Regions from separate parts of the Homo sapiens genome. Here region 2 is linked to region 1. Evidence: fine-mapped expression QTL. A gene starts in region 1. The other region holds a variant in brackets. All regions are shown on one strand. Distances are between the middles of the regions.

Region 1 (16,913 bases):
CAGAAGGGACTTTGCCTTGCATACAACATACTATGTTAATGTAATATTTGCAGCAACAGCTATGTTCCAGAAGACTTTCTAAAGTTCTGGAGTCTGGGGCAACAAAACAGTGAAGAACTGGTGCACCAACTTGGTATAGATGAAATCCAACAATTTTACAAACATTTACTAGTCAGATAATATAAACCTGGCACTATTCTAGGACCCCCCCCCATATCTGCAAAGTATGGTAAAAATTGTTAATTCAAAGAAAAATTAAAATCTGTAATCACCAACCAAACAAATAAGAGTCGCGTCTAATTGATACGATACTCTTCAAAAATAGTAACCAGTGAAAGAAACAAAATGCTGGAGTGAAGCAGAGAGGGTCATTACTGCCTGGCTCCACAGAGCCCCTTTCCTTCAAACCCCTCCATAACCCTCCAGAGGTTTTATTTTGAGTTGACAAAATTCTGAGAATTATCAATGATGTGACACATAGAGAAAAGAAAACTCAGTAGGCAGATCATTATTTTCTTCCTAAATGCAATGGAGACAAGTGACGCCAGGGAAGAGCACTCTAGAGCTGACTCTTTAAGAATGGAAGGAGGCTCCCAGGCCACCCAGAGATCAAATTATAATGGGGTCTCCTGCAGGAGAAGTATAGACTCTCCAACCAGGGAATTAACATGGAACAAGGCATTGCACAAAAATCTCAGAGGAAAGAGCAGAGACAAGTTATTCAGACTGCAGGGCATCTTGGTCAAGTCCTGTGCTCCCTCTGTCACTCCCTCAGGCTAAGAAAGTAAAGCTGAACACAAAATTCTTAGCCCTCAGACGAGGGGAAATAAATCTCAGATATTGTTGGAACACAAGTAGTCACTCCCACTCTGTCTGCCCAGAGCCATGCAAACAACATCAAGATGGAGAAAATGGCCCAGAGACTATGCAAATATATTAGATACTGTATTAGTCAGAGTTTTCCAGAGAAACAGAACCAACAGGATGTGTGTGGAGAAAGAGGGATTGATTTTAAGAAACTGGCTCACAAATTGTGGAGGCTGGCAAATCTAAAATGCACACAGCTGTCTGGCAGGCTGAAAATTCCAGCAAGAAGTTGATGTCTTCAGGTCTTAAGTCCCAAGGCAGTCTGGAAACAGAATTCCTTCATCCTCAAGGGACCTCAGTCTTTTTCTCTTAAGACCCTCAACTGATTGGATGAAGCCCACCCACATCATGGAAGGTAATGACTTTCCGCAAAGTCTACTGATTGAAATATTAATAACATCTAAAAAAAAACTTCACAAGAACATGTAGATGTATATAATCAAATAATTCAGCATCATAGCCTAATCAAAGTGACATAAAAAATTAAGTATCACACACAAACATGAGGGTGCACATACACATATCCATCTAGAATAATAATCTAGAAGAAGAATAATAGTTAACATTCAATGCATGTGCTAGGTACTGTTTTTTGTTTGTTTGTTTGTCTGTTTGTTTGTTTTTGAGATGAAGTTTTGCTTTTGTTGCCCAGGCTGGAGTGCAATGGCTTAATCTCGGCTCACTGCAACCTCTGTCTCCTGGGTTCAAGCGATTTTCCTGCCTCAGCCTCCTGAGTAGCTGGGATTGCAGGTGCCCACCACCATGCCCAGCTAATTTTTGTATATTTCATAGAGACAGGGTTTCACTGAGTTGACCAAGCTGGTCTTGAACTTCTGACCTCGGGTGATCCACCTGCCTCGGCCTCCCAAAGTGTGGGGATTACAGGTGTGAGCCACCGCGCCTGGCCCTTAGGTACTGTTCTTTACGTTTCACATGTATTTACTCATTTAATCCCCATAGCAAAACTTATGAGGTAGATAATGTTTATTTTTGTATTTAACAGACTAGAAAACTGAGGCAGAGAGTGCTTGAGTAACTTATGCAAGACTACATGCTAGCAAATGGCTAAGCCGGTAAAGATTGGCAGAGTTTGCTCAAAACTCATGCATTTTACCACTGAACTAGAAGAAAATGCAACTCAGGAAATAGAATGCAATTCCCCCGCTTCACTCTAAGAAGGCCTTAAGAACATTAGTTCAATAAAATAAGAGCATACTAATAGAATAATTTAAAAATTAAATGAGATGATAAAGGAAATGACCAGTCTAGAGAACAAATTTTGGACTATGCAACACGATTATGGAAATGATAACTAAATTAGAAAATGCAAGGCACAGAATAGACAAAAGTCGTTGCTGGCAGAAAAGAACTGAGATAATCTGAATGAATGCAGATAAAAAAGACAAAGAATTAAAGCAAATTTGGGAGAATATTATAGACATGAAATATAATATATATTATAGTATTATATATATGAGAATCCAAAGAAAATTTTCATAATATTATTGAAGTAAAAATTCCACTTCAAGATATATTCAAAGACATTATACAATAGAATTTCTCTAAAATGAAGGATAATAATTTAATATATTAAAGAGCAAGTCCCTACTTATACAAAACAAAAAAAGTTCATGATACTCCAAGAAAATTAGAGGTAGTATGCTCAATAATATTTCTTAGCTGAACTATTGAATGTCAAGGATAAAGAAAAAATTCTTCAGATATTGAAACAGAAAAGCAGGGAAAAACTGTATCACTTCAGAATTATCAATAACACTCAATTCCACAAGACAATAAAGCAATGTCCATAAAGTTCTGTGAAAATTTAATCTAAAAATATTATAATTAATCAAGATGTCATTTGAGCATAGAAACCACTAACAGACATTCACTAGCATGAAAGAACTCAGGAAATGCAATACACATTATTTCTTCTTGGAGAAGAAAAATTTTCTTGACAATGACATCCAGTCAAATAAAAGATGATTAAAAATAAATTTAAGAATGGCAAAGTGAGATTAAAAGAACTGGTAATGAACAAGGAATGTATTTAAACATACAGTGAAAGTAGACAACTAATAAAAGTATGGTAGCAATACTGAATGTGAATGTTATAAACTTGAACAATGTAAACTAATTATGTAACTGCAAAAATTGGGAAATAGGGGAAAGGGAAAGTGGGAAGAAATTTAAGAGTGCTAACATCCTCATCTTTCAAAATTAGGGAATTGATATTATATAAATATATATTTTTAATGTTACAAATTAATACTAGCCTCTACATGTTTATCTCTAAACCTTGCTTTTTTTAACTTTATTTAGGTTTGAGAGTACATGTGGAGGTTTGTTACATAGGTAAACACGTGTCACGGTGGTTTGTTGTACCTATTATTTCATCACCCACATATTAAGCCCTGTACCCAGTAGTTTTCTGCTCCTCTCCCTCCTCCCACCCTCCCCCCTCAAGCAGACACCAGTGTCTGTTATTTCCTTCTTTGTGTTCATAAGTTTGTATCATTTAGCTCCCTCTTATAAATGAGAATCTGTGGTATTTGGTTTTCTGTTCCTGCATTAGTTTGCTAAGGATAATGACCTCCAGCTCCATCCAGATTCCCACAAAAGACATGATCTTGTTCTTTTCTATGGCTACATAGTATTCCATGGTGTGTATGTACTACATTTTCTTTATCCGATCTGTCATTGATGTCCATTTAGGTTGATTGCATATCTTTGCTATTGTCAACAGTGCTGCAATGAACCTCTTGGCATATACCCAAATGAATAAACCCTGCTTTTTTAGCACTAGTCAGTTCTTTTATGAAAAAAAATCCTGTGGTGAACAAACATTCTTCACTTTAGTTTTGTTTTTCTTCTACTGATATCAAATAAAATATAAATAACTATCTTTTGTTAAAAATAGTTACTAGGGTCTTATCCTATTTTCATAACTTTTATTTGTCTATTGCTCTATCCTTCTAATTGTATAAAATGCATACAAAGTACAATGCATACATTGTACGAAATGCATAAAATATTTTTATAAAAACAATCAGGTGACTTTTTCCCTTTAAAAATTGTAAGCAGGCTGGGCGTGGTGGCTCACATCTGTAATCCCAGCATTTTGGGAGGCCAAGGGGGGCGGATCACTTGAAGTCAGGAGTTCTAGACCAGCCTGGCCAACATGGTGAAGCCCCATCTCTACTAAAAATACAAAAATTTGCCAGGCATGTTGGTGGATGCCTGTAATCCCAGCTACTCGGGAGGCTGAGGAGAATTGCTTGAACCCTGGAGGCACAGATTGCAGTGAGCTGAGATCATGCCACTGCACTCCAACCTGAAAGACAGAGCAAGACTCTGTCTCAAAAAACAATAATAATTATACATAAATAAGTAAATATTATAAGCAGTATACCAAGATGTTAACAGTGGTTCCTTTTGAGTGATGAGAAAATGGACAATAGTAATTTTTTTTTTACTTTTGTCCGGGTTTTTAATTTATGTTGCAAATTTAATTTGCAACATAAAAAATGAGGTATTAATGAATTACTTGTTCACCAGTCTACTAATCATGAATTTAGCATGCATTAAACATATGTACTTTATTAATATGTATTTTTTCATAAACTTATCCTAGGAAATAAAACAGGTAATAAAGAATGCAAATATCTCAACCTCTACAATGTTCAAAGGGAAAGTGTGCAAAACGTGCATGTCTTAGTAGGATCCCTAAGTTAGCAATTAATGAATGATGTGGGGAATGTGGGAAATGTATTCTTGGATATACCTTTTATCTCATTATTGTTTACTACTCAATTCTGTGAAATAACCTCTATTTTATGTACTATGGCACATTTACAACATACAGCATCTGAATAAAATTATACAACTGGTTATACAGAACTAGCAGTTTAGATATTATAAAGTAGCTGTCTTGTTACCTCATAAACCATAAACCACATTAGTATCTGAGAAATTAAAAAAATTTCTAAAATGTCCCACTTCAGGTATAGAATTTTACAAGATTTAGGGGGAAATTATCACATCGTTTCTTATATTAAAATAACAACAATAGCAATATAAGCCTAAACCAAAAACCTAAAAAGAAATGGTTACTAGACATAAGAGAGCAGAGAGATAGGGACTGAAGGTACACTTCTTTCAATACATAATGTTTTTTGTTTGTTTGTTTGTTTTTGAGACAGATTCTAGCTCTGTTGCCCAGGCTGAGTGCAGTGGCATCTTGGCTCGCTGCAAACTCCACCTCTCGCGTTCAAGCAATTAACCTGCCTCAGCCTCCCAAGTAGCTGGGATTACAGGCGCCCGCCATCACGCCCAGCTAATTTTTGTATTTTTAGTAGACACGGGGTTTCACTGTATTGGCCAGGCTGGTCTCAAACTCATCACCTTGTGATCCACCCACCCCGGCCTCCCAAAGTGCTGGGATTACAAGCGTGAGCCATCACGCCCGGCCACATAATGTTTTTAATATTTGAGTTTAGAACCATGTATTTTACATAATTCTAAACTTACTTTTAAAAAATGATCCCTATAACTTGAGCAGAATGAGAAAATGAATCTACCTGTGTAAGAGTTGGTAGCATAACCATACAAAGAACTTGTAAAGAGACTTTATAACACAGTAATATGACCGAACATACCTGGTGTGATATGCTCTAAAGATTAAAAAAGAACAAAACTGCAAACAAAAACTCTTAATCTGTTTCCAGTAATGATATTGTTGATCATATTGGCACCATGTATTGGGATAAAGCTAATGAATAATCATGTTGATGTCATTTGGAGTATGGAAAAAGAGATGCAAAAGGTTAATTAAAAACTCTATGAGATCCTGATTTGAAAAGAAAGTCGGTATACATTCATGATTATAGATACACACACACACACACACACAGAGAGACACACACACACACATTGTTCTCAGCTCTGTCTGCTGAAAAGGTCTTGAAGCAATGAAGAACTCACTAACAACGTGTAAAAATAAAGCCCAGTTTATGATCTCTAATGGTCATTTTCAATTCTAAAATTAGGGCCCCTTAAAGGCAGATTTCGGGTCAGAAGCAAAACGTATATAACTTTGACCCGAAACATTTTGTCATACCAAAAACAAGAAAAAGCCATCAAAGCCTATTGGCATAAAGTCTCAGGAGTCACTTTGAAGAGTCACCTGCAGGCCAAGAATAGGTCTGAACTTCAATTAGAAGAATGCCTGCCATGGATTGAAATATAGTTGGCCCCCTGTATCCATGGGTTCTGCATCTATAGATTTAACCAAACATAGGTCATAAATATTTAGAAAAAAATGCATCCGTGCTAAACACATACAGACTTTTTCCCTTTGTGTTATTCCCCACATAATACAGTATAACAACTATTTACACTGCCTTTATATTATATTAAGTATCATAAGTAATCTAGAGATTATTTAAAATATATGAGACGATGTGCATAGGTTATATTCAAATACCACACCATTTTGCATCAGGGACTTGAGCATCCACAGGTTTTGATACCTACAGGAGGTCCTACAGCCAATCCCCTATGCATACTGAGTGATGACTGTATGTCAAATGTGTTTAAATCCAGGAAGTCATAATAATCCTAATTTTTTAAAGTGGGTCTTATTAAAAGGTGTTAATTTACCAATTCATTATTTTCAAAATTGGTAGAGAGACATAATCAAGCATTTATCCCATCTTTCCTATATTAATAATGCTTTAGAATAACTAGTTGCTGAGAAACATGAAAGAAACAAGTCTGCCTACCAGACAAATAATGAATGATAAAATCAACATAGCACTGTTTTGAAAATACTAATGAATTAATAGATCTAGAAAATGATAGTCAATGGCTGCTAACAACTCAAAAGGAGAAACAACCACATATCATGTGCTTCCTACCAGAACAACACAACACATGTGAAGTAGTCTCATCAAAAAAAAAAAAAAAGAAAAAGAAAAGGAAAAAGAAAAAAATGTACAGAGGATCAAACTTCTAGATACAACTACCAATTAACAGGAAATAATCGAAACAGAGAAACAAGTTAAAAGGCAATCAGCAAAGTCCAGAATGCGGTACACTCTCCTGACCTGTCTTATCAATAAACTACAATAGAGAGAGAAAGAGAGAGCGAATTACAGATTCAGGGAGATTTAAGAAACATGCAGTAGAAGGAATGTTCGTGTCCCTCCAAAATGCATGTGTTGAAATCGTAACCCCTAAGGTTATGGTATTAGGAAGTGGGGTCTTTGGAAGATAATTAGATCATGATGGTGCAGCTCTTATGAATGAGATCAGTGCCCCGATAAAAGGGACTTTGAAGAGCTCTCTCATTCTTTCCTGCCATGTGAGGATATAACAAGGAGACAATATGACAGTCTGTAACCTGGAAGAGGGCCTTAAACACAACCAGACCATGCTGACACCACGATCTCAGACTTCCAACCTTCGAAACTGTGAGAAATAAATTTCTGTTGTTTACGTCACCCAGACCATGGTACTTTCTTACAGCAGCCTGAACTAACAAAACCAATTGTAATGTATGGACTTCATTATAATTCTGATTTCAAGTAGTAAACTGTGTGGGCCGGAATTAGGAAGCAATGAGAAATATTTGAATGCTAACTGGATATTTAATGTAAGGAATTATTTTATGTTGTTTTAGGTGGGATAATGGCGTGGATATGTTTTTATTTTTTTTAATTCCTACCTTTATACAGACATGCTGAAATATTTACAGTTGAAATGATTAACTGTCTGGGATTTTTTTCAAAATAATCTCAGTGCAGAGGAAACTGGAAGGGTTGTAGATGAAACTTGGAAGTGGATGTTTCTCTCTACTTTTGGATATGCTTATAATTTTCCATATAAAAGTTCTGAAAACGGAAAATAAAATGCTCACATTGTGAGGCTAAGGCCAAAAGAAATCAGAGATGCATGAGAATTTCCAAATTCAGGATTATTTAAGAACAACATAGAGAAAAAAATACTTCTGGTTTGAGTTGCAAAAATTTATTTCTTTTATGCAATATACTAAAAAATCATAATTAATTGAAAAATATAATACTTCATATGTAAAGGGGAGAAAACTACTCCACCAAAGATGTCACATCTTTTAATTCATTTGGAGATCAAAGAAATGTGTCTGCCAGGCAACCAAGGGCTCATGGAAAGGTGTGGTTTCTGTACAAATGCTATTTGTCTAATATTTTGTGCTGTTAATGACTGTCCCATTAGCATCTTCACTACACTTACTTTCATAGAAAGGAGAAACATGATTTATAGAGCCCTTTAGTGACAAGGGTGAGGATCCTACACACTATGTTGCTGGTTTCCTAGTCTTCAGCAAGAAAGTGTAGGAGAGAAGCAAAAAACGTCCTGTTCAACCCCTGCTCCTGGATGTGGCAAGGAAGAGGAGTTACCCGGCTTGAAACAAAAGAAATCCTAAGTCTGACACACAATGTCATGTTTAAATTCCCCTTTCTCCAAAATGTAAAATAAATCTGCTTCCATCTTCTAAAATACTATGGGACTAAACATCCTTTTGTTATGCTAAGGAAAAGCCAGTATTCGCGTTGATTTAGAAGAGGGATGTTCTGGTTATAGAACGATGCTGTGTCTCAGAAACACTTAAATACTATTAAGCTAGAAATAGAAGGGAAAATAATGCTTCCCCGCATCTCCCCTCAAGTGTAGTCCTCTTTTTTTAGCCTGATTTCCGACGAAATGTCTGAATGCCTACAGTTATTTGGCCATCCTGAAAAGTGCAACTTATCCTGACGTCTCGAGGGACGGAAAAGTTACCGAAGTCCAAGGAATGAGTCACTTTGCTCAAATTTGATGAGTAATATCAGGTGTCATGAAACCCAGTTTCGAAGGAGAGGGGAGGGGGCGTCAGATCTGCAGACGGAAGCAGGCCGCTCCGGATTGGATGGCGAGACCTCGATTTTCCTAAAATTGCGTCATTTAGAACCCAATTGGGTCCAGATGTTATGGGCATCGACGAGTTACCGTCTCGGAAACTCTCAATCACGCAAGCGAAAGGAGAGGAGGCGGCTAATTAAATATTGAGCAGAAAGTCGCGTGGGGAGAATGTCACGTGGGTCTGGAGGCTCAAGGAGGCTGGGATAAATACCGCAAGGCACTGAGCAGGCGAAAGAGCGCGCTCGGACCTCCTTCCCGGCGGCAGCTACCGAGAGTGCGGAGCGACCAGCGTGCGCTCGGAGGAACCAGAGAAACTCAGCACCCCGCGGGACTGTCCGTCGCAGTAAGTGCCCGCGCGGTGCTGGCCGCGGCTGCCCGGGTCACCCCGCCCCGCATCTGTCCGAGGTGGCCGCGCTGGGGGCGCCGCTGCGGCGAGGGACAGTGGGGAGACTGGCTTCCCAAACGCCAACGCCCCTCTTTGTCTTCCACCTGCAGAGTTTCCTGGTTTGAAGGTGTGGGTTGGTGGGTTAGGGGGCTGGGGGAGTTGGGATTCAGGGAGAAGAGGGTTGGAGAATCTTTGGGACGCGATTCTCTCGCCTAACCGGTACAGGTGAGACTTCAGTCCTTATGTTTTTGATCTTGGTTCATCCGTTGTGGGGCAGAAAATTCTGTTGCTTTAACTCTTGGATAACCACCCCTAATAGATACATTATTTCTCTCTTTGGTGTCTTCTCCTCCTACCCCTTCCCAGAAATCCAACATGAAAATCCTCGTGGCCTTGGCAGTCTTTTTTCTTGTCTCCACTCAGCTGTTTGCAGAAGAAATAGGAGCCAATGATGATCTGAATTACTGGTCCGACTGGTACGACAGCGACCAGATCAAGGTGAGGCCCCTTCCCAGGACGGCCCGCACCCTTCTTCCTGGGCTCGGGAGCTGTCACCTTCCCACGCAACAGCACCCTAGTTAACGTGGCACGCACCGCCACCACGGAAAGAGGCAGCGGTTGCGTGCGAGAGGATGGAAAGGGGCACTATTTCCCGGGTTCCCCACGGGATTTTGTGCCCACGATTCAAGTTTCTTCCCGAGGGCTGCACCGTCCGGCCCAGGAACTCCCTGCAGTAGGGATGCCCTCCCGGATGAGCCCGAGATCCTCACAAGGCGGGAAATCTCGTAAGATTTCATCCCCCAGGACCTGGGATTTCGGGGGCTCCGGTCCAGCTGCACTGCCCTAGCGTCTGGGCACGGGCAGAGGAGGGCGCCTGGGTCGCGGGCAGCAGCGGGCACACGCGCGAGCTGCAGGGGGATTGGAGGGCCGGAGGCTGGAGGGAAGTTAATTTCCTGCCTTCACGTTTGTTTTGCGGACCTGAGGATGTAGCTTGAAGTCTCCCTTTAGAAACTCGTAGGCTACAGGCGCTGGGGAGCGCGCCTCGGAAAAACGGTGAAAGTCGTCTGTAAAGCGTTGTCACCCTTCCCCACCGGAGCCCCAGCCCCAGATCCCACACACCTGTGTGCATTTAGGGCGGTGAGGACTCTACAAAGCCGGCACCGAGACAAGACAAAGTCAGGTGGCGGCGCAGCAGATGAGGGAAGGTCCCCGGGCTGGGAGGAAAGAGCGGAAAGCGCTCGAAGCTTGAAGACGCCGAGCCAGCTGCTAACTCGCCCTGGCAGGCTTGCGGGGGGCGGGACGCGAGTTCGGCGGGGAGGGGCGCAGAGAGGCAGCGCCTCGGGAGGGACCCCGCTCAGCCCGAGCGTGGGGAAGGCCGCCTCCCCACGCCTCGGGGCCGGAGTACAGCGGGGGGAAGGGCTCGGGTTGCTGGGTGCCTCGCTCTGGTTGCCTTACACGCCCTTTGTCCGTGCTTTTGTCTCCCAGGAGGAACTGCCGGAGCCCTTTGAGCATCTTCTGCAGAGAATCGCCCGGAGACCCAAGCCTCAGCAGTTCTTTGGATTAATGGGCAAACGGGATGCTGGTGAGATAGGCGACCGTCCCTAGGTGTCTTGGGCAGCCCGCCCTGTCTGCTCACTCCTTCCTGGAGTACCCCAGGGTCTCTCGCTCTGAATAGAGATTTCCACTCCAAGAGGGGTGTAATTCCCCAGGCGCGACATTGGCCCACACCGCACTAAGGCACGCACGGGCCCGCGGGGGGAGGGAAAGATCTGGTTCGCATGCCTCACTGTATTCGAGTGAAGCGCTCCCTTGACTAAAGATCCAAACTGACAAAGGGAAGGCACGGGCCTCCAGGGGTAGTACTGCGGATGATCCAAGTGCATGTGGAAGAGGATTTTATAGCATTCCCTGAGGTGAGAGTACATTTGTCTTGGGATAGAAATATCGTTTCCTTGAATTCATCGCACGGTCAGTGGAACATGTAGTTAATGACAATTCGTCTCTTGTCAGATTCCTCAATTGAAAAACAAGTGGCCCTGTTAAAGGCTCTTTATGGTAAACATTCCTATAAATCTTTATTTTACTATTGTGAAAGCACATGTAGGAAAGTGAAATAAAATCTTTTATGGGCTGAAATACAAGATCTGGGTCATGCCTGTTTAATAAAGAGATGGATTTGCGCACTCTCTCTCGGTTTCTCTCTCTCTCTGTCACTCTCTCTGTCTCTCTCTCTCTGTCACTCTCTCTCAGTCTCTCTCTCTCTCTTTCTCTCTCTCTCTCAGTGGGTGGCCAGCCTTGAAGGTGGGATGTGTTACAGTCTTATAGTTAATAAGAGGCCTCAGAAGTCTCATAGTCCTAGGTTTGAATCCCATAGAAGGCACTTAATAAAAATTCCATTTGTTTGTTTAAATATTTAGTTTTTATGATTAATAATTTGTTTAGCATTTATGGTTCTGCTTTATTCCTCAGGATAATATATAGATAGAAAATGTTACATATTTTGAGAATCAAATTATTTTATAAAAGATATAATGTAGCATCTTTAAAAACAAATCTATATGTGTTTGCTAATTTTATCTTTCTTCTAGGACATGGCCAGATCTCTCACAAAAGTAAGTTCAAAATTATTTTGACATTTATCAAATTTAAATGTAAAATTATATTGAATTTCACTTTATTTATCTTACCTTATTTTCTGTCATGACTCTAGGGCTTAATATGTTTAATGAAGACAATATAAGAATGGGGGAGATTCATATTACATCCAGAATATGGTTGTTTAGACATATTGTACTTAGCAAAGAGATGCATTATATTAAAAAAGAAAAAAATGTCTTTTAAGTCCCTTCAATTGTTAGTTTTAGAGAAGAATTTCAATCCTAGGATTAGAAATCTACCATACATATTTCTTCCCAGCCACCCACCCCCTAAGCTTACTTTCACTGTAAACAAACAAACAAACAAACACGAAACCCCCACAAGCATTTATAGGCATCTCCTAACTCATTTTAGTATGCTTGGTCCAATAATGATGTCATTTATTAGGGTCATCCAGCAGCCAATTAAATGGAATGAGTGAGTGAACATGAGTAGAGAATCCATACTAAAAATGAAGACGGTAGAGATGCAGTTTTTTAATCCCCTAATTGAATGGGAAAACTCGATCAGTAAAACATTTCTTAGGGCAGCAAAGATGGCAAAATTGTGGTATGTGAAGGTCATTAAATTTGTTTCTCAGTTAATGGAACCGGAGTTGACAAGAAGTGGAAAGGGTCTATCTTCATCGTATTGTCCACTCACCTATTGTACCCTGTCATGGATTTGGTTCATTGGGTGGCAGAGCAGGCCACATTAACGTAGCAGCTCTATTCTCAACTATTAAAATAAAAACCAAGAGAAATTCTCTCACTAGCATTAAAATAGTAACCTTTCCAAAGAGTTCATCTTTGAAAAATAAATAGTATTCATATTTACTTTCTAAGGATTTGACTTTGAAGAGAATTATATATAAAAATTCTATGTAATAAAAAATGTACTCTGTTCATGTGAAAACTAATAAACTTTTCTGAAAGGAGTATCTTTTAATATCCAATAAAATAAAAACAGTGACCTTTTAGAAGATTATAATCATCAAGGAAAGGAATCTGGTTTAATTAAGGTCTACTTGCTGAGAAGTACAACTTATTAATAACACAAGGAATTATGCTTGGATATTTCACTCTCACACAAATGTGAAATTGACTTCCTAAAAAATCAAACCTAGCTCAAATAACAATATTTTATATAAAATATTTTAGACCCTTACATAACAGATAAAATATATGAATAGAGAGTGCTTGCTAATATTAAATATAGAATTAAGAAAAGTGGTTTCATTGTATTGTTTTAGTGTAATTTATAAAACTTTTAAGGAATCTTTATTTCTTCAGTCTCACCAAAACTTGAAGTAGATAGATATTTATTATACAGACATATATTCAGAAGCTTGCTTTGTTCTGGTTATAATAGTTTGTTTCCTCAAAGATATACATATTAAAATACCCCTAAATGTATTTTTCCAGGACATAAAACAGATTCCTTTGTTGGACTAATGGGCAAAAGAGCTTTAAATTCTGGTATGTATGAAATTATGACTGAAAATAGACAGTATCTCAAATCTATTTCTATTTTTTCTAAGACATAGTTTTAAAATATTAAAAAGGAGTGGTAGATATAAAAATGAGTATTATGGTGGAAAAATTTAATTGTTGTACTTGTAACCACAAATGGATTTATAGCTGGTTAAGCTAATACTACCACAGTATCTGTCTATTTCTCTCCAATCACCATTCTTACCAGTGTCTGCCCCATTTAATCATTACCAACCTGAATCTTTGGGTTAGTGCTATATTCTTTCCTATAGATCTGTTAAATAAGCCGTGTTTAACCTTACTGAACTAAGGGGGAGTGGGGAGTGCAGGGAAGAATGAGGGTGATTTTCACTTGTTATCAAAGTAATTTGAAAGTTTTACAAGACATTACATTTGGCGATCTTCCAATACAAAAATAAATTCACAAAACAAATTCTTTATGCAAATTAATCACTTTTTATGAAGTTGTAGAAATTCAAAATCTAAACATCCTGATGGATGTTGGAGAGGACAAAAGTGATACGGTTTATTCCAGTACTTTCAAAAAGGAACACAATTAAATATCCTTGAGTGTTATAAATTGGTTCTGGCTATAAACTCCTTAGAGAGAAAGGATGCCACAATTCTCATTTTAATTCTGAACAACTTTTTCGTATGATATAAAGGCTGCAGGTTTCCTTCTCTTCAATTTCCATCTTCTTTGTAAATACCACGTACATATATCTGAAAACCATTATTAGTTAACTCATTCATCACACTGATTTCAATGTAAATAACCCCTAGATCATTTTAATAGAAGCTCACTTTTTGTTAAGACCTTATAGCTCTTACCTCTAGGGCTTCTTGGAAAAGCTATTCAAATTCTATTTTGCCTTCAGTGAAAATAGAATTAAAATACTAAATACGTTATTAATTATAAAGTAATCAGCAGCTGTCTTACCCATTTAGAATATTTCCAGTTTCTAGACAATCTATAAGATGTGCTGGCTTAATCCTTAATTATCTGGATCCTAGGAAAAATAATTATCCTAGTGTTTTTTAATGGAGATTTTTTTCTTTATTGTGAAATGTAAGACTTGGGTACATTAAATAAAACCACTTTCTGTGGGGCAAAAATCAAAACGCGCAATAGAAAAAAAAAGTTAACACAATCTGGGCTACGGCAGAAGCCAGAGAATATATTCATATAATTGAAAAGTTCTAAGTGTTTCATAATTGACCTTTTGATACAAAATTTCCAATAAATCTGGAATTTGAAGTTCTTGGTGAAGTCCACAGGACTTCCTAGTGTTCTTATTGGGTCCCCACTTTCTATTTAGACACTACCTTTGCATCTTCTCACCAGTCATTTTGGGCTGCCGAAGTGTAAAAGTGTAAGAAATTATCAATGTGCCTTAATGAAAAACTTGTAATTGTTTTATTAATATGTATTATCTTCCCACTTTTGGAAATGAAATATAAATTTAAACCACAATGGCTTTTATTTGTACCAATACATACTAGTCCTCACTTAATTGTAGTTTTCTTGATAATCATATTAGTCATCAACTTTCCATTTCCAGAATTGATATAGGTTTCAGAACATGCTTAACTTTACAAATGTAGATATTGTACAAGTTAGAACAGATTAAATACAATTAAATGTACTTAAAATAATAACATAATTTTAAGTAGTGATAAAAATCACTGTAGTGAATCAGGATCAATTTATAACTAAATCTTTGTTCCTCCATTTTAGTTAAGGAAATATAAATAGGTGAAATGTGGAAAAAAATGTGATATGATCCACAGTCAATCAGGGATCTTTTTATGTACCTCATTGAGGCAAGGTTATCATAGCCTTAATCTATAGCCCTCTGATCTTTACCCACTCATGGTCAGGGACCCCTTTGACAATCTGATAAATCTAGATAGATGCCCTTTCCCAGAGAAACCCTCATCAGCTCATACACTCAAAAATTTATATCAGGCTTCAGAGGGTTCAAAGACCAGGTAAGAAACTCTGCTTCCATGTAAGAGGACATTATGTTCCAGCTAAATCACTGTCTGTCTTTAGTTGGTTTACATTAGCTTTCATCTAATTTCTCTGAGGAATAGAGTCATGTTACCTAAAGCTTGTCAGAGACTGAACTTGGGCCATTCATCCTGTTCCTAATATAATCAAACCAGAATGAGAAATAAACTGTTTCCTTCCCTCACGCCTGTCCAGTGTTGGCTCAGACTGTTCTGCCTCACAAGTGCATACTTAATTGATGTAAAATATGCAGCTTATTGTTAACCGCACTTAAAGGATAGCTGGGTGTTTAAGACCAGTATTAAAAGAGGGAAGTGATAATACTGGTGCCTTTACCTGTCTTCTCTGTCAGCAAATCTTCTCACTGAGGAAACTGTTTAGAGTAGCACTTATTATTCCTACAGATCCTTCACAGATCTTTCTACTCTTTCTGTTTACATTCAGTATTTTATACAGGCCATACTGAATTTCAAAAAGCATAGTAGTTCCACTATACCATACGTCTAAGTCTATAAGGTATTCGTTAAGGATGAAAAATATCCCAAAATACTTTTATTGCAACAGTCTGATTTTTACCCCTTTGTGGTTACAGATCCCTTTGAAATTATATATAATAAATATAATATAATATAATATACAATTTTGGCATTTTTTTGTCCAGATAATCAATGTATTTAAATTACTTGCTAGCTATATGTTAAATACCTTTGGAAGCAATAATTAATGCTTCACAGGCCATTAAGGTGCTAGTGAAAAGTTAAACAGTATGGTATTTAGATGGCTCAACTGACTTACCTATGGTAAATGGGCTGTTTTTAGTCTTGAGGGCAGTCCATCACTGGGAGGTATCCACAAGGTAGGAAGAGACCCCTACACAATTAGATGCCCCTTGAACAAAGATCAGCAAACTTTTCCTGAAAAGAAACAGATTATAAATATTTTAGGCTTTGTGAGCCATGTAATCTCTGTTGCAACTACCCAAATCTGTTATTTTAGGCCAAAGCAGCCATAGACAATATGTAAATGAATGAGTGTGTCTGTATTCCTATAAACCTCTTTACAAGAACAAATGGTATTCTAGATTTGGCCCATGGTCTCTGCTAGAATAAAAGTCCCACATTTGGTTTTTATCCTACTAGTATTCCTGGTTATTTTAGGCATTGTCCTTTCTAGAATTCACTATGGGTATCTGCCACTGCTTGAGAAAGCTGCTGAGAATCAACACTGCAATATATTGTGGAAATATGCTTTGGGGGCACCAAGTATATGATGAATGATGAATGAAACCGAGTTCTGTGGTTAGATCATTTCCAATCAGAATAGAGACTGAGGCAGGATTGGAAGATGTGCAGATAACATTCTTAGAAATACTTCTGTAGAGGGAAAATGTCATTATGAGTTTAAAATAAATTACTATATGCCCTGAACTTTAGTTGTGTAACTCCCTCAGTGAATTCACTTAAAAAACACTTTATCTCTTCTTTGTTTTCAGTGGCTTATGAAAGGAGTGCAATGCAGAATTATGAAAGAAGACGTTAATAAACTACCTAACATTATTTATTCAGCTTCATTTGTG
Region 2 (16,913 bases), 460 kb before region 1:
TAGATCCTGGATATTAGCTCTTTGTCAGATGAGTAGGTTGTGAAAATTTTCTCCCATTTTGTAGGTTGCCTGTTCACTCTGATGGTAGTTTCTTTTGCTGTGCAGAAGCTCTTTAGTTTAATTAGATCTCATTTGTCAATTTTAGCTTTTGTTGCCATTGCTTTTGGTGTTTCAGACATGAAGTCCTTGCCCATGCCTATGTCCTGAATGGTAATGCCTAGGTTTTCTTCTAGGGTTTTTATGGTTTTAGGTCTAACGTTTAAGTCTTTAATCCATCCTGAATTAATTTTTGTATAAGGTGTAAGGAAGGGATCCAGTTTCAGCTTTCTACATATGGCTAGCCAGTTTTCCCAGCACCATTTATTAAATAGGGAATCCTTTCCCCATTTCTTGTTTTTCTCAGGTTTGTCAAAGATCAGATAGTTGTAGATATGCAGCATTATTTCTGAGGGCTCTGTTCTGTTCCATTGATCTATATCTCTGTTTTGGTACTAATACCATGCTGTTTTGGTTACTGTAGCCTTGTAGTATAGTTTGAAGTCAGGTAGTGTGATGCCTCCAGCTTTGTTATTTTGGCTTAGGATTGCCTTAGTGATGCAGGCTCTTTTTTGGTTCCATATGAACTTTAAAGTAGTTTTTTCCAATTCTGTGAAGAAAGTCATTGATGGGGATGGCACTGAATCTATAAATTACCTTGGGCAGTAGGGCCATTTTCACGATATTGATTCTTCCTACCCATGAGCATGGAATGTTCTTCCATTTCTTCATATCCTCTTTTATTTCACTGAGCAGTGGTTTGCAGTTCTCCTTGAAGAGGTCCTTCACGTCCCTTGTAAGTTGGATTCCTAGGTATTTTATTCTCTTTGGAGCAATTGTGAATAGGAGTTCACTCATGATTTGGCTCTCTGTTTGTCTGTTATTGGTGTATAAGAATGCTTGTGATTTTTCTATATTGATTTTGTATCCTGAGACTTTGCTGAAGTTCCTTATCAGCTTATGGAGATTTTGGGCTGAGACAATGGGGTTTTCTAGATATACAATGATGTCATCTGCAAACAGGGACAATTTGACTTCCTCTTTTCCTCATTGAATACCCTTTATTTCCTTCTCCTGCTTAATTGCCCTGGCCAGAACTTCCAACACTATGTTGAATAGGAGTTGTGAGAGAGGGCATCCCTGTCTTGTGCCAGTTTTCAAAGGGAATGCTTCCAGTTTTTGCCCATTCAGTATGATATTGACTGTGGGTTTGTCATAGATAGCTCTTATTATTTTGAGATACGTCCCATCAATACCTAATTTATTGAGAGTTTTTAGCATGAAGGGTTGTTGAATTTTGTCAAATGCCTTTTCCACATCTATTGAGATAATCGTGTGGTTTTTGTCTTTGGTTCTGTTTATATGCTGGATTACATTTATTGATTTGCATATATTGAACCAGCCTTGCATCCCAGGGATGAAGCCCACTTGATCATGGTGGATAAGCTTTTTGATGTGCTGCTGGACTCAGTTTGCCAGTATTTTATTGAGGATTTTTGCATCAATGTTCATCAAGGATATTGATCTAAAATTCTCTTTTTTGGTTGTGTCTTTGCCAGGCTTTGGTATCAGGATGATGCTGGCCTCATAAAATGAGTTAGGGAGGATTCCCTCTTTTTCTATTGATTGGAATAGTTTCAGAAGGAATGGTACCAGTTCCTCCTTCTACCTCTGGTAGAATTTGGCTGTGAATCCATCTGGTCCTGGACCCTTTTTGGTTAGTAAGCTATTGATTATTGCCACAATTTCAGGGCCTGTTATTGGTGTATTCAGAGATTCAACTTCTTCCTGGTTTACTCTTGGGAGGGTGTATGTGTCCAGGAATTTATCCATTTCTTCTAGATTTTCTAGTTTATTTGCATAGAGGTGTTTGTAGTATTCTCTGATGGTAGTTTGTAATTCTGTGGGATTGGCGGTGATATCCCCTTTATCATTTTTTATTGCATCGATTTGATTCTTCTCTCTTTTCTTCTTTATTAGTCTTGCTAGCGGTCTATCAATTTTGTTGATCCTTTTAAAAAACAAGCTCCTGGATTCATTAATTTTTTGAAGGGTTTTTTGTGTCTGTATTTCCTTCGGTTCTGCTCTGATTTTAGTTATTTCTTGCCTTCTGCTAGCTTTTGAATGTGTTTGCTCTTGCTTCTCTAGTTCTTTTAATTGTGATGTTAGGGTGTCAATTTTGGATCTTTCCTGCTTTCTCTTGTGGGCATTTAGTGCTATAAATTTCCCTCTACACACTGCTTTGAATGTGTCCCAGAGATTCTGGTATGTTGTGTCTTTGTTCTCATTGGTTTCAAAGAACATCTTTATTTCTGCCTTCATTTCATTATGTACCCAGTAGTCATTCAGGAGCAGGTTGTTCAGTTTCCATGTAGTTGACCGGTTTTGAGTGAGTTTCTTAATCCTGAGTTATAGTTTGATTTCACTGTGGTCTGAGAGACAGTTGGTTATAATCTCTGTTCTTTTACATTTGCTGAGGAGAGCTTTACTTCCAACTATGTGGTCAATTTTGGAATAGGTGTGGTGTGGTGCTGAAAAAAATGTATATTCTGTTGATTTGGGGTGGAGAGTTTTGTAGATGTCTATTAGGTCCACTTGGTGCAGAGCATGAGTTCAATTCCTGGGTATCCTTGTTAACTTTCTGTCTCGTTGCTCTGTCTAATGTTGACAGTGGGGTGTTAAAGTCTCCCATTATTATTGTGTGGGAGTTAAGTCTCTTTGTAGGTCACTCAGGACTTGCTTTATGAATCTGGGTGCTCCTGTATTGGGTGCATATATATTTAGGATAGTTAGCTCTTCCTGTTGAATTGATCCCTTTACCATTATGTAATGGCCTTCTTTGTCTCTTTTGATCTTTGTTGGTTTAAAGTCTGTTTTATCAGAGACTAGGACTGCAACCCCTGCCTTTTTTTGTTTTCCATTTGCTTGGTAGTTCTTCCTCCATCCTTTTATCTTGAGCCTGTGTGTGTCTCTGCACGTGAGATGGGTTTCCTGAATACAGCACACTGATGGGTCTTGACTCTTTATCCAATTTGCCAGTCTGTGTCTTTTAATTGGAGCATTTAGTCCATTTACATTTAAAGTTAATATTGTTAGGTGTGAATTTGATCCTGTCATTATGATGTTAGCTGGTTATTTTGCTCGTTAGTTGATGCAGTTTCTTCCTAGCCTCGATGGTCTTTACAATTTGGCATGATTTTGCAGTGGCTGGTACCAATTGTTCCTTTCCATGTTTAGTGCTTCCTTCAGGAGCTATTGTAGGGCAGGCCTGGTGGTGACAAAATCTCTCAGCATTTGCTTGTCTGCAAAGTATTTTATTTCTCCTTCACTTAGGAAGCTTAGTTTGGCTGGATATGAAATTCTGGGTTGAAAATTCTTTTAAGAATGTTGAATATTGGCCCCTACTCTCTTCTGGCTTGTAGAGTTTCTGCCGGGAGATCCGCTGTTAGTCTGATGGGCTTCCCTTTGTGGGTAACCCAACCTTTCTCTCTGGCTGCCCTTAACATTTTTTCCTTCATTTCAACTTTGATGAATCTGACAATTATGTGTCTTGGAGTTGCTCTTCTCGAGGACTACCTTTGTGGTGTTCTCTGTATTTCCTGAATCTGAATGTTGGCCTGCCTTGCTAGATTGGGGAAGTTCTCCTGGATAATATCCTGCAGAGTGTTTTCCAACTTGGTTCCACTCTCCCCATCACTTTCATGTACACCAATCAGACTTGGATTTGGTCTGTTCACATAGTCCCATATTTCTTGGAGGCTTTATTCGTTTCTTTTTATTCTTTTTTCTCTAAACTTCCCTTCTTGCTTCATTTCATTCATTTCATCTTCCATCACTGATACCCTTTCTTCCAGTTGATCGCATCAGCTCCTGAGGCTTCTGCATTCTTCACATAGTTCTCGAGCCTTGGTTTTCAGCTCCATCAGCTCCTTTAAGCACTTCTCTGTCTTGGTTATTCTAGTTATACATTTGTCTAAATTTTTTTCAAAGTTTTTAACTTCTTTGCCTTTGGTTTGAATTTCCTCCTGTAGCTCGGAGTAGTTTAATCGTCTGAAGCCTTCTTCTCTCAACTCGTCAAAGTCATTCTCCGTCTAGCTTTGTTCTGTTGCTGGTGAGGAACTGCGTTCCTTTGGAGGAGGAGAGGCGCTCTGCTTTTTAGGGTTTCCAGTTTTTCTGCTCTGTCATTTCCCCATCTTTGTGGTTTTATCTACTTTTGGTCTTTGATGATGGTGATGTACAGATGGGTTTTTGGTGTGGATGTCCTTTCTGTTTGTTAGTTTTCCTTCTAACAGACAGGACCCTCAGCTGCAGGTCTGTTGGAGTTTGCTAGAGGTCCACTCCAGACCCTGTTTGCCTGGGTATCAGCAGCAGTGTCTGCAGAACAGTGGATTTTCGTGAACCGCGAATGCTGCTGTCTGATCGTTCCTCTGGAAGTTTTGTCTCAGAGGAGTACCCGGCCATGTGAGTTGTCAGTCTGCCCCTACTGGGGGGTGCCTCCCAGTTAGGCTGCTTGGGGGTCAGGGGTCAGGGACCCACTTGAGGAGGCAGTCTGCCCGTTCTCAGATCTCCAGCTGCGTGCTGGGAGAACCACTGCTCTCTTCAAAGCTGTCAGACAGGGACGTTTAAGTCTGCAGAGGTTACTGCTGTCTTTTTGTTTGTCTGTGCCCTGCCCCCAGAGGTGGAGCCTACAGAGGCAGGTAGGCCTCCTTGAGCTGTGGTGGGCTCCACCCAGTTCGAGTTTCCCGGCTGCTTTGTTTATCTAAGCAAGCCTGGGCAATGGCGGGTGCCCCGCCCCCTCCCCCAGCCTCGCTGCCACCTTACAGTTTGATCTCAGACTGCTGTGCTAGCAATCAGCGAGAGTCTGTGGGCTTAGGACCCTCTGAGCCAGGTGTGGGATATAATCTCCTGGTGAGCCGGTTTTTAAGCCCATTGGAAACGCGTAGTATTAGGGTGGGAGTGACCTGATTTTCCAGGTGCCGTCTGTGACCCCTTTCTTCCACTAGGAAAGGGAACTCTGACCCCTTGCGCTTCCCGAGTGAGGCAATGCCTCTCCCTGCTTTGGCTCGCGCACGGTGCACTGCACCCACTGTCCTGTGCTCACTGTCTGGCACTCCCTAGTGAGATGAACCCGGTATCTCAGATGGAAATGCAGAAATCATCCGTCTTCTGTGTCGCTCACGCTGGGAGCTGTAGACCGGAGCTATTCTTGTTCAGCCATCTTGGCTCCTCCCTGCAATTTTTATCACCCTGATGCGTTCTAATAAGAGTTCACTATGGCCCGTGAGCCAAATCTGGCCCACTGCCTGTTTTTACAAACAAAGTTTTATTGGAACACACACAGTTTAAATAAGGACATGTAAAAATAAACTTACTAAAACAGAATATAAATCTGGAAAAAATTTCAGAGACTGTAAGCATAAAATAGGAACTAGGTAGTTTTTAAAATTTTACATGTTTGGGCCAGGCACAGTGGCTCATGCCTGTAATCCCAGCACTTTGGGAGGCCGAAGCAGGTGAATCACGAGTTCAGGATATCGAGACCATCCTGGCTAACATGGTGAAAACCCGTCTCTACTAAAAAATAGAAAAAAAATTAGCCAGGCGTGGTGGCGGGTGCCTGTAGTCCCAGCTACTCGGGAGGCTGAGGCAGGAGAATGGCATGAACCCAGGAGACAGAGCTTACAGTGAGCCGAGATTGTGCCACTGCACTCCAGCCTGGGTGACAGAGAGAGACTCTGTCTCAAAAAAAAAAAAAAATTTGTATGTTTGCATTTTGATCATTTTTTAGGAGATGGGGGTCTCACTGTGTTGCCCAGGCTGGAATGCAGTGGCTATGCATAAGTACCATCATTGTGTACTACAATCTCAAACTCCTGGCTCAAACAATCCTTCTGCCTTAGCCTCCTGAGTAGCTGGGAGGTACTACAAGTGCATGCCACTGGGCCTGGCTACCAATACACCCAAAAGGAAGAAATGGAAATACTTGACTATAGAAAAATTTAATACTTTTTGTGTGGTAAGAAACACCACACCCACAGTCAAATGCCAATTGTGAAAAAATATTTGTAATATATATGATGGAAAAAGAGGTTAGTAGACATAATTTACAAAAAGCTGCTGTAAATCAATATGAGAAAGATAACCCAATGGAGAAGTGAACAAGTGCTATGAAAAAGCAATTAATCATAAGAGAAAACCCAGAGGTTAATAAACATGAGATGTTTCACCTCCCTAAAAAGCAGGAAAATGCAAATTAAAGTAATATACATGTATCACTTCTTGTTCATCACAATGGCAAAAATTAACAAGAATGAGAACCTAGTTCTGGCATTTCTTTATTCATGCATTCTTCTATTTAACACATATTTATTAAGTGCCTTACATGAGCCAGGCATGATTCCAGGTGTTGAGGATACAGCAGTGAACAAGAGACAAAAACCTCAGTCCTTGATCGAGACCATCCCGGCTAAAACGGTGAAACCCCGTCTCTACTAAAAATACAAAAAATTAGCCGGGCGTAGTGGCGGGCGCCTGTAGTCCCAGCTACTTGGGAGGCTGAGGCAGGAGAATGGCGTGAACCCGGGAGGCGGAGCTTGCAGTGAGCCGAGATCCCGCCACTGCACTCCAGCCTGGGCGACAGAGCGAGACTCCGTCTCAAAAAAAAAAAAAAAAAAAAAAAACCTCAGTCCTTATGGAGCTTGCAGTTAACTGGGGAAAGTGGCGAAGAAGGTACTCATATTGCTAATGAAAATAGGAAGTGTTATAGCCTTTTGGAAAGGAACTTAATATTTATTAAAATAAACACATAATCAGCTTGAATTCTAACAGTAGACTTGAAGAGATTTCCATCATGTATAGCTGAGTGACAAAAAGCAAGACTCTGGAATGTATATGATTGATTATCACATGGAAAAAAAAAAAAGCAATGACAGTCTCCTCCCCACCACCAAAGCATAGGTCTACATTTATATACATCATTGATGTTAAAACCACCATCTAAGGTGTGAAAACACATGCATGAAACTGTTTACATTGATCAATTGAGGAGAAGTGGAATGGGGAAGCAAAAATCTCAAAAAGACTCAGCATCTACTCTAGAATTTCACATGTGATATCCAATTTATCTAAACACTTCTATATCTGATTTTTTTTTTACTTTCAAGTTTTAAATTCTACTTTCTTTTAGAGTTTTAGTCATTGCTGGTAGATGAAAACTTTTCTTAAAAAAAGTTTTTTACTCATCTATAATAGTTGTACACTAAAATTTTAGGGGTAAAGGTGGTATTTTGATACTTGCATGCAATATGTAATGATCAAATCAGGGTAATTGAGGTATCCATCACCTCAGCTCAAACATCTTTTTATGTTGGGAGCATTACAATTATTCTCTTCTAGCTATTTGGAAGTATACAGTACATTTTTCTTAACCATAATTTAAATATCTGAGGTTCTATATCAATGAGAATTGATGTTCATAGTTAAGCATCTCGGAGTAGAAACTCTACTGGCTATTATCTTTTTTCTTTCTACTTGAATGTTTTTTGAAACATTTTAATAAAAGTCATAAGCATTGATTATGTATGTTCCATATCATAAAAGTATACAGTAAGATGAAGATAATATAAATGTCAAAAATGTAGAGTAGAGTTGGGCAGTTTGGGGGGTAACATAAGGACTTAAATTCCCATCTTTCATAGTTAGGAGTCAGTAGACAATGCCCAAAGGTGTTAATTCAAAATACAGAGTTAAATCATAACTTATTGCTATGTAACCGTCAGAAAATATAAAACCAGAAATAGTTAAAAGAAGTTATCCCTGACATATAACAGAACTGACGTTTGGGTGGGCAGAATTGGTATTTATCTTCTATTGTAAATTGTTTTGTACTATTATATTTTTTTATCAGAAAAAAAAAATTGAAAATGTAATCAGTTACCAGCCAGATAACCTCGAGCAAGTTACCTCTCAATGTCCCAGCCCCCTGCCTGTAAATGGGAAAATAGCAGCCATTTCATAGAGTTGTTGTGAGAATGTATGTGAATTGTTGACCACAATGCTTATGTCA[T/C]AGTAAATACTCAATACATTGGGGCCACTAGTTTGATTATAATTTAAGAGTTGTAAGTTGGTTCCCCTTTTTAGAGCCCCAGTATTTTCTCCTTATCCTCAACTCTACTCTCAAGCAATTAAGAGCTCTAGTTGAGGGGGGTTTTATTTCATTATCACCAAAAACAGACGACTAGGTATATGTGAAAATGTTAATCATGAATGTGTGGATTTCTTTTTATTTCTTTTTATTTTTTATTGAGACGGAGTCTCTCTCTGTCGCCCAGGCTGGAGAGCGGTGGCGCAATCGCGGCTCAGTGCAAGCTCCGCCTGCCGGGTTCACGCCATTCTCCTGCCTCAGCCTCTCCGAGTAGCTGGGACTACAGGCACCCGCCACCACACCAGGCTAATTTTTTTTGTATTTTTAGTAGAGATGGGGTTTCACCGTGGTCTCGATCTCCTGACTTCGTGATCTGCCCGCCTCGGCCTCCCAGAGTGCTGGGATTACAAGTGTGAGCCACCGCGCCTGGCCGAATGTGTGGATTTCTGACAGGCACATGGTAGTCCTCACATGCTATCTGGAGACCTGCTCTATCTGCTTCTGGCAATGTGAGGGTTCCTCTCCACTATAAGAAACTCAGATGATATGTGGCATATGTGATTTATGATATGTGGTCAAAAAAGGATTGATTTGGAAAAATGTCTACTATATGTTATATGAAAAAATTTAGGACAATATGTATAGTCTGGATTTTTAAATTAAAATAGAAATATAAGGACCCTTATATGTGTATATACATATTTCCTGTAAGCATAGAAAGATTAATTAAAATCAAGAGTTAATTTTATATCACATACTTTCATATAGCTAAATTATTACAAGAAGTGTGTAATAGTTTTATTATTAGAAAGCGCAGTGGCCCACAGCACTCTTTTGAAAGGAAACGTATAGATAAGTGGTCAGGTTTGGGTATGTGTACTCAAGGAGGAAATGTGGGTCAGTGGCTCACAGATAAGGAGCTCAAAAATTTACTCAGAGTTCTTTATTTCCCATGAAATACAGTATTGGTACCAGTTCAGTGCCAATAAAAGTTAATTTGTGAAAAAGAACTATTACTCATTTTGCAACTAAAATTATTTTCCAGATTAAGTCTGTTGCTTCTGTTCTTACCATTGGTAAATCACCTGTTAAGTGTACCAAGCCATGCAAAGACATTTCCTACTGGAACTATTAGCATGCATGTTGCCTAGGAAAGGTCAGTGGAAACATTCTTCATCATTTGAAACGTTACTGTAGGAACCAGTAAGAATACTCTGCCTGAATTATGGAAAACTCTTTCTAGACTTCAAAGGGCTTTTATAGCTCTACTTCTACAGAATCCCCAGTGTTTCTAAGTTGATGAAGTGATCCAAAGTCTGGAGGCTGAGACCATAGAGGTACCTTTGCAAATAAAAGGGTCTTGGCAGGGAGTCATGGGGGAGGCATGTTAAAATCTAAGAGGGCCATGAGAGAGAAATAATCTGCCACTGTCTCCAGGCTACACTCATTTTCTCCACGCATAACCTAGGGTTTCCTCTTTCGGACAACAAGAATGCCAAATGGGAATGCCACATTGAATTTGGTGGTCTTTGGAAGGTGGATGGAAGTGGAAAATGAAGATAATGAGAGGGGAGAAGACCCCTGGAAAAGAGTAATTGGGAAATCACCTACCTTTCTAAGAGTGGAGAGTAGATGCACCATTTAAAAACTCCAGGATATAACCTAGGATTTACAATTGCTATGTCATGATGGTGTCCCTTGGGGGATCCCTTTACCGTAATAACTAGCAAGATTAAAAAAGTATTAGTAAGGTGTTTAGACATTCCGCAATGTATACATATATCAAAATATCATATTTTATGCTATAAACATATAGAATTATGTTAATTATAAAACGAAATAAATTGAGGAATAGACATGCAATGAAATACTGTCAAGCAATAAAAATGAACAACAATTATTCTAAGTGAAGTAACTCAGGAATGGGAAACCAAATGTCTTATGTTGTCACATATAAGTGGGAGGTAAGTTATGAGAATGCAAAGGCATAAGAATGCAATGGACTTTGGGGACTTGCGGGGGAAGGTTGGGAGAGGGTGAGGGATAAAAGACTAAATATCACGTAAAATGTTCACCGCTTGGGTGACGGGTGCACTATGAGCTCAGAAATTACAAATAGAGAACTTATCCATGTAAGCAACATTGTAATAAAATTGTAATAATTTTGTTTTTCTCTATACTTTTCCCATCTAAGTATGAACTGCTAAACACTGTAGCTTAGCTTTCCAGGTGTTTAATCTTTACATAAATGAAATTATTCTTTACATAATTGAGATTAAGAATAATCTCACTGAAAATCTGGAAAGCCTAGCTATAGTGTATAGCAGCTCATATTTAGGTGGGAAAAGTGTAGAGAAAAGCAAGAAAATTATTACCACAAAAGTCAAGTATCAGTTATCCATGGTGGGGAGGGGAAGGTTGTTTTGAGTGTCAAGGAGTAGATGTGGGGGTAGGTAGGGAAGTTATTAGTAAAATAAACGGATTACAGGCGTGAGCCACCACACCTGGCCAATACTTTTTTCTTCCACAACCAAACATAATTTAGAAAACTTAGGAGGAGAAGGAAAGCCTAGTGTTTACCCATATTTTTCCTTACTCTCTTCCTTCTTCATTCCCAATAATCTAGTCCCCCCAAAACCTGAGAACTCAGGATAACCACTAATGTAGTCCAGGCCAAAAGCCAGCTTGAGACTCAGGAAGAATCAATGTTTCAGCTGAGTTCAAAGCCAGGAAAACAGCACAACAAAACACAATGTTCCATTTCAAAGGCCATCAATCAGGAAAACATCCTCTCTTACTCAGAGGTCAGCCCTTTTGTTCTAGTCAGACTATCAAGTAATTGGATGAGGCCCACCCACATTAGGGAAAACAATCTGCTTTACTCAGGCTCCCAACTCAAATGGTAATCTCATTCCAGTCTGAAATATTTGAGGCCAAAGAAAAATACCCAGATAACTCATCACCATGTTGTTCTTTATTCCCATATTCCCTAATGGCCAGCTTATTTTCTCTACCTTTCAGCATTTTCTTGTTTGTCTTACACTGTTTCCAGAGATTTCAGTTGCACTTATCAGGAGGAATAGGGAAAAATATACTTACTCCATCTTTCCAAAAGCAAATATAATTTGAGTTTTGAAGTTAATCTTTTTATCTCAGACACTGAGGGAAAATAATTCAATCACTGGTTGGTCAGAGAGATCATCAACACTAAAAATTCCTCCATTGATTTCACCAAAAAGGTTCTTAGTCTAAAACCCCCAAAACCAATCTCAGGTCACTTTTTCTGTTTTCAAATCTGAGTCATGCTTTTCAGAAAACTTCAGTTTTGTTATTTAAAATGAAACCTCCTTGAGGTCAAGGGCTACTTTTGTATTTCCATGGTTATTCAAAACATACTCGGGACATACTCTCTTTCCAGAGCTAGACTGAGAAAGATCCAAGAACAAGAAGAGCAGGTAGGAGTTTAATAATAATAGCATGGCTAAGGCTAAATACCAAAAATTAGGCCAGATGATTTTTGCAGAGCATCAAATAGTATCTCTAATTTTCACAATATCTTATAAACTGGCAACAATCTCCTTTTACAACTGTGGAATATTCCAAGAAATTAAGTGATTTCTCCAAAGAAACATAGCTTAGGAATAGCAAGGCCGCCAGTTGATTCTAGGATCCAAGGTTGCTCTTCCCTTTACATTATAAAAATATGGAAAGGAAAAGGAGTGGCTGGGCACAAAAATTATGGCAGAAGAACTGGCAGGACTTATTTACTGCTTAGCTTGGGGTGTAATGAAAGAGAATGAACCAAATACAACTTTGGAGTTAAGGTTCTTTGCAGAAAAATGATGGCTTCTTTCAATTACTAATCAGGAAGAGATTTAATAGCAGGAATCAGTGCTTAGGAAAGTATAGGGCAGGCAAAAGAGTAGAAGCTAGCCTAGGTCTCCAGAAATACTTTCCAGATCCCAGTTCTGACCTGCTGGGGACTTACTACTACAGAGACTATCACTGGAATTACTGAGTTCAAAAGTTTCACATGGATTTTTGACTGTGTGTTGGATTATTTCCCTTAACACCTGTATTGTTCAAGGATCAAAACCGTACTGGCATTTTAGTCTTTATATGAAGTTAGTTCCTGGGAAGGGATTAGGTAATTAGTGCCTTATTTTCTGTCCAAAAGCGAAAGACAATTCCTTTTGGAAGGTAAAATGGCTTTTCCCAGAAAACTGAGGCAGCACGAATACAACTAATGGAAAAATACAGTGAGAGTTTCGGAGTGAAGATTTTGTAAACAGACGATATTAAAATTTTGTTATACCTAGTGATTTCTATCAACCTAAATTTCTAAAAATCAAAATATGTAATGGTATCAAATTAAATAATACAAAGAGCTAAAATTGAGAAGCTGTAGTCTCCCCATCCCTCTCTATCCTACACCCACTCCGTATCATGTATGAATTGAAAGTGGAATAACCAAACAATTAATTGTTAATATAATACCAACTAGTAGTTTGGAGATAAGTGCAGGGTTTATTCAGGGGTCCAGGGTTACTATCCCCAACTGATCCATACACCAGGGAGAATGTTGCAACTTCATGATCATGTGGATTCACTTTTCACGCATTTTTTCAATTGTTTGTAGTAGCCCTGTCCCTGAAAACTCCCTTCTGAAGCAGCCTCTGGCTCCTGTCTGTACCTGCTGCTTTCTAGGCTCACTGCATAACCATCGTCCTAGGAATCCCCGCTCCTGGCCGTTTTGGGTTGGAGCTATACAGTTTTCTTAAACTGTGCTTTCTTCCTTCCCTCCTGCATTTTGAATACATCTTTAAATGACTTTTGAGGAAAGGCTAAATTTTCTGTCATTGCTTGTCTGAAAATGGCTTTATTCATGCTCTTCCTTGATTGATAAAGTCATTTTGTCCCCTTAGAATGCACTGCTCTGTAACGTCAGAGAATCAGCATAGGCAGTTAGCCAAAAACTACTCTCGATTAATTTCTGAGACGCTTCCATCCAGAGGGCTGATTGATACGCTTTGAGTGTGTCTATGGTTAGATGTGTCTATGGGTTATAGCTTTTTCCTATTATAGTACATCTTATTAATAGCAAATTTGCCTTCTTAATAGCAAAAGTCACTGTTATGATTTCTATTGTTACGGTTTACTTTTAATTTGATTTTGAGGTCTTTCTCTCAAGAGTGACCATAAACCAAGATAACCACTTTCTAGGAGAGCCCTGACTAGGAGAAAGTTAGATTCGGGTGTATCAGGCAGGTGAGACAAAATGAGGAAGTAAAACCAAATGCATGAAACACAAGAAGGTTATTACTTACAGATCACATAGAGGTTAGGGGTGTCAACAGGAGGCTGACGGGAAGGCTAGAGGTGGCAGGGAGCTCAACCAACGGGTGGGGAGCAAGAGACAGAGAGAAGAGCTGTGGGGCCAGGTCTTTATTAAGGTGCACGGGTGTTAGCCCTTACACTTTCCTCAGGGGTTGTGAATTTTTTACTTTAAAGAAAACACTTGTGAATTGGGGAACTTGTTTACAAGACTCTGGTGTTAACCATTAAGTTTTATCACGGCAGCACCTGTGGAATATGTTGGGTTTGGTTCAATGAGATGAGGAAAAAACGGGCTGTATTGCAAACAACCACACAGGGAGGGAAAGTTTTAACTGGGCCAAAGGTGACAGTATATGACTGGGCTTCAAATAACTTATGGCAGTCCTAAAAATGGGTGCTGAGGCAGCACTTTATTAAACAAATTGATGACAATCCACCTCTGGGTGCCCTGGCATGATATTTTAAATGTAAGACAGTTGTAGCTTGAGTGGTGAAGATATTGACTGCAAGGAGAATAATATCATTCCCAAGAAAGTAAGCATTCAGTATGGCAGTTATGTTGTTGGTTATGAACTAATAATTGAGCAAAGTATATGTAAATATTAGTGGTATTGTGTCTAGCCAAGGGGAAGGAGTGGTTGTGGTTGGAGATGCAAGTCAAGAGGCTGTGGTAGAAAGCTGGATGGGGTTACAGTAGGAGAAGGCACCACAGAGTAGTCAGTCTTCTCCCCAGGGGGCCAAGGGGTTGTTTAATATGAGATAGGTGCCTCCTGGGGAAAGCAATAATCATCATTAATTTAGTAACCTCTATCAGGTTTTCCTTTAGGCATGGAAGTGTAGCGGTGTATTTTAGAAGAGAACAAGGACTATACCAGGATCACGGGCTAAGCAGACAGTGAGTTCAGAAAGAACATTTTAAACGTGTCAATTTTGTGCCTTAGGACAGGCAGCCCATGGGTGTTGCTGAGTGGAGACTTTAGTGTAAGAGGTGAAGTCTCCAGCACAGGGGGCAAAGTCATCTCCAACAATAAGGTCTTGGGATGGTCTTGCAATGTCATCTTAGGCAATGACAGCTGAAGCATTATTTTGGGCCCTTGCAAGCTTGTGTGGGATTGTAGGACTGGGGTATCCTTTTAAGTGAGTACCTACTTAAGTTGATGTAGGCCTCTGGATTGCAAATCAGTATAAATGCCCAAACCAATAGTGATAAGGCCATCAACAGAATGGTGTGCAGCTGCATCTGACAGGGTGTTTTTTGTTTGTTTGTTTGTTTGTTTGTTTTGAGCATGTGGAAGTTTAGATGTAAATGGGTTATCTATCAGATGAGCAAATGCCTGGCCTATAGGAAAATCTATTATTAATGAGTCCCAGGAAAGTATGTGCCTTCCATCTGGCCTCCAGCCCTTGTGGAATGGGGGCAAGATTGAAAATTTATAAAGATAGGCCAAGACCTGGATAAAATAAACTTTTGGGTGTTGTGAGGCGAGAGATTCCCAGATTTTTTTTTTTTTTAAATTTTGAAAGGTACAAGTTTTAGGTAATGACCCAAGGGTTTATAACGAAAGTGAAGATGAGACCAGGACATCCAGTACTAAGAGAGCTCTCTTAGGTTTGGCTAAATGTGTTTTTTTGGGTCCCATTCTTTATTAGGGACATGACGGCTAAGGGATAGAAAGTGGCAGTATTCCACTAAGCTCATCACATATGATAGTTAAGAGTGCCACATGCATGCATAGTCTACAAACTCTTGTTACTGTTCACTCAGTTTATCCTAAGGGGCTTTCCAGATAGTCAAGAGGTCAGGGGGAGGAATGACTTTCCCCAGTACTCTGGCATCTGGCAAGAAACTGGGGACAAGGGAAGCCAACTCCTTCAGGTGGAATATACCAGAGGCCCCAGGTTTGGTTCCATCCTGTATTGAGGCCTCAGTAGCCATGCTGAGCTTGTGGGGCGCTGTTTCTATAACCTAATGCATAATGAGCACCTGGGTATAGAGTGTCACAGGCTCGAGGTCAACAAGAATCTGTATTTTTAGTAGAGGGCAGTGGGTAGACAGTCATTTATTGTTTTAATGGTGTATACCCTGAGGCCAAAAGAGGCAGATTTTTGCATCAGAGGCTCTAGAGCAACTTATAGCCATCAGAAGTGGTTTGGAGATCTTGGGAAGCATGAGAAGAGGTTGCCAAAGCCTCAGAATTAATCTGAGGTTCTCAAGTGCAGAGAAGGAGAAGGGAAATTAATGAGGGCATTAATAGGAGTGCCTGCTGATTTTAATTTGTAAATGGTAAATACGTTGCCTTCAGAACCCAAAAAGTAAGAAAAGATATTGACTTGTATGTCCTTAAAGAGTGTATCATATGAACCTCATTGGAGGAGGACAGCATTGACATAATGCTGTAACTGTGCTCCTGGAGATGATGGATGTAATTAAGAACTTGTCTGCAGAGACTGTGCATGATGACCAAACTGTTGAGGCCTACCCCATGAGTAGCCTGGAAAAGGTATATTGTGTCCCTTTGGCGGTAGAGGCAAACTGCAGCTGAGAGATTGTTGAAGTAGGCACTAAAACATGTTAGCCAGTCTATGAGAGTAAAATATTTAGAAGTTCCTGATTGAATTGGATGAGCAATTTGAACAATATTGGGTATTGGCTAAAGGGACCTTGATGGATGGGACTATAACATTAAGGTTGTGGTAATCCACCATTATTACGTTGGTTTTAAAAATAACAACCATGTGATTCTCAATTGTTTCTTATTGATTTTCTTCTCTCCGGAAACTTTTACTGTCTTCTTTTTATCTTTGGCAGCCTAATATTTCATCAGGATGTTTCTAGGATTTAAAAAGTATATTATTTACTGTATTCAGCACTCTGTGTGCCTTCTCTGTGGCCAGAAATTTTTTTTCTCTAATTTTCCTATTAACTTCTTTCACTCCATTTCCTCCATTCACTTTTCTTGGGGTCACTGTTAGTCAAATGGTAGACCTTCTGATTTCATTTTTGTTTTTTTTTCTTTATTTCATATTTTCTATATCTTTGTCTTCTTGCTTTGTGTTTGGGAACCATTCTCAGCTTTGTTTTTCAATCCGTCTTACTGAATTGTTTTACTAGAGCAATTACTTTAACTTTTTAAAGTTCTTCCTTGTTCTGTAATTGGTTCCTTAGTATCTTGTTCTTGTTTTATGGTTGAAATAGCTTCTCAAGTTTCTTGACTTCTTAAGGGCTTCCTCCCCCCATCTTAAGCTCTGTTTTGTTTCTATAACAATTACGTACAAGGTTAAATAGTCTGGTTTCTTTTCCTTTCATGTAGCTGTGTTTTTCTATATGTCTGGTGATTTTGGTTGTTTATTAATTATTAAGAATGAAGAATTAGGTACTCAGGTCTGACCTGAGCTG

Direction of the effects. Alleles are on the strand shown, and positions count from the first base shown. SD is a standard deviation of normalised expression in the study named.
In carriers of allele C in region 2, the expression in subcutaneous fat of the gene that starts at base 9,042 in region 1 tends to be higher than with T alone (moderate effect, 0.48 SD a copy in GTEx).

What was found. PIP is the estimated chance that this variant, and not a neighbour inherited with it, causes the effect.
Region 2: its variant is fine-mapped to the expression of TAC1 in subcutaneous fat (GTEx, PIP 0.91).

What each region holds. Positions count from the first base shown.
Region 1 is chr7:97,723,045-97,739,957 of GRCh38, forward strand. It overlaps TAC1 (tachykinin precursor 1), which reads left to right and starts at 9,042. Exons shown (of 7, transcript NM_003182.3): 1 at 9,042-9,151; 2 at 9,560-9,691; 3 at 10,679-10,775; 4 at 11,204-11,248; 5 at 11,782-11,805; 6 at 13,255-13,308; 7 at 16,830-16,913. The coding sequence starts at 9,569. The coding sequence ends at 16,876. RefSeq lists an enhancer at 8,201-9,400.
Region 2 is chr7:97,258,951-97,275,863 of GRCh38, forward strand. It overlaps LOC124901704 (a long non-coding RNA gene), which reads right to left and starts at 13,637. Exons shown (of 3, transcript XR_007060445.1): 1 at 13,507-13,637. RefSeq lists an enhancer at 10,699-11,219. The variant T/C (reference allele first, on the strand shown) is at 8,102.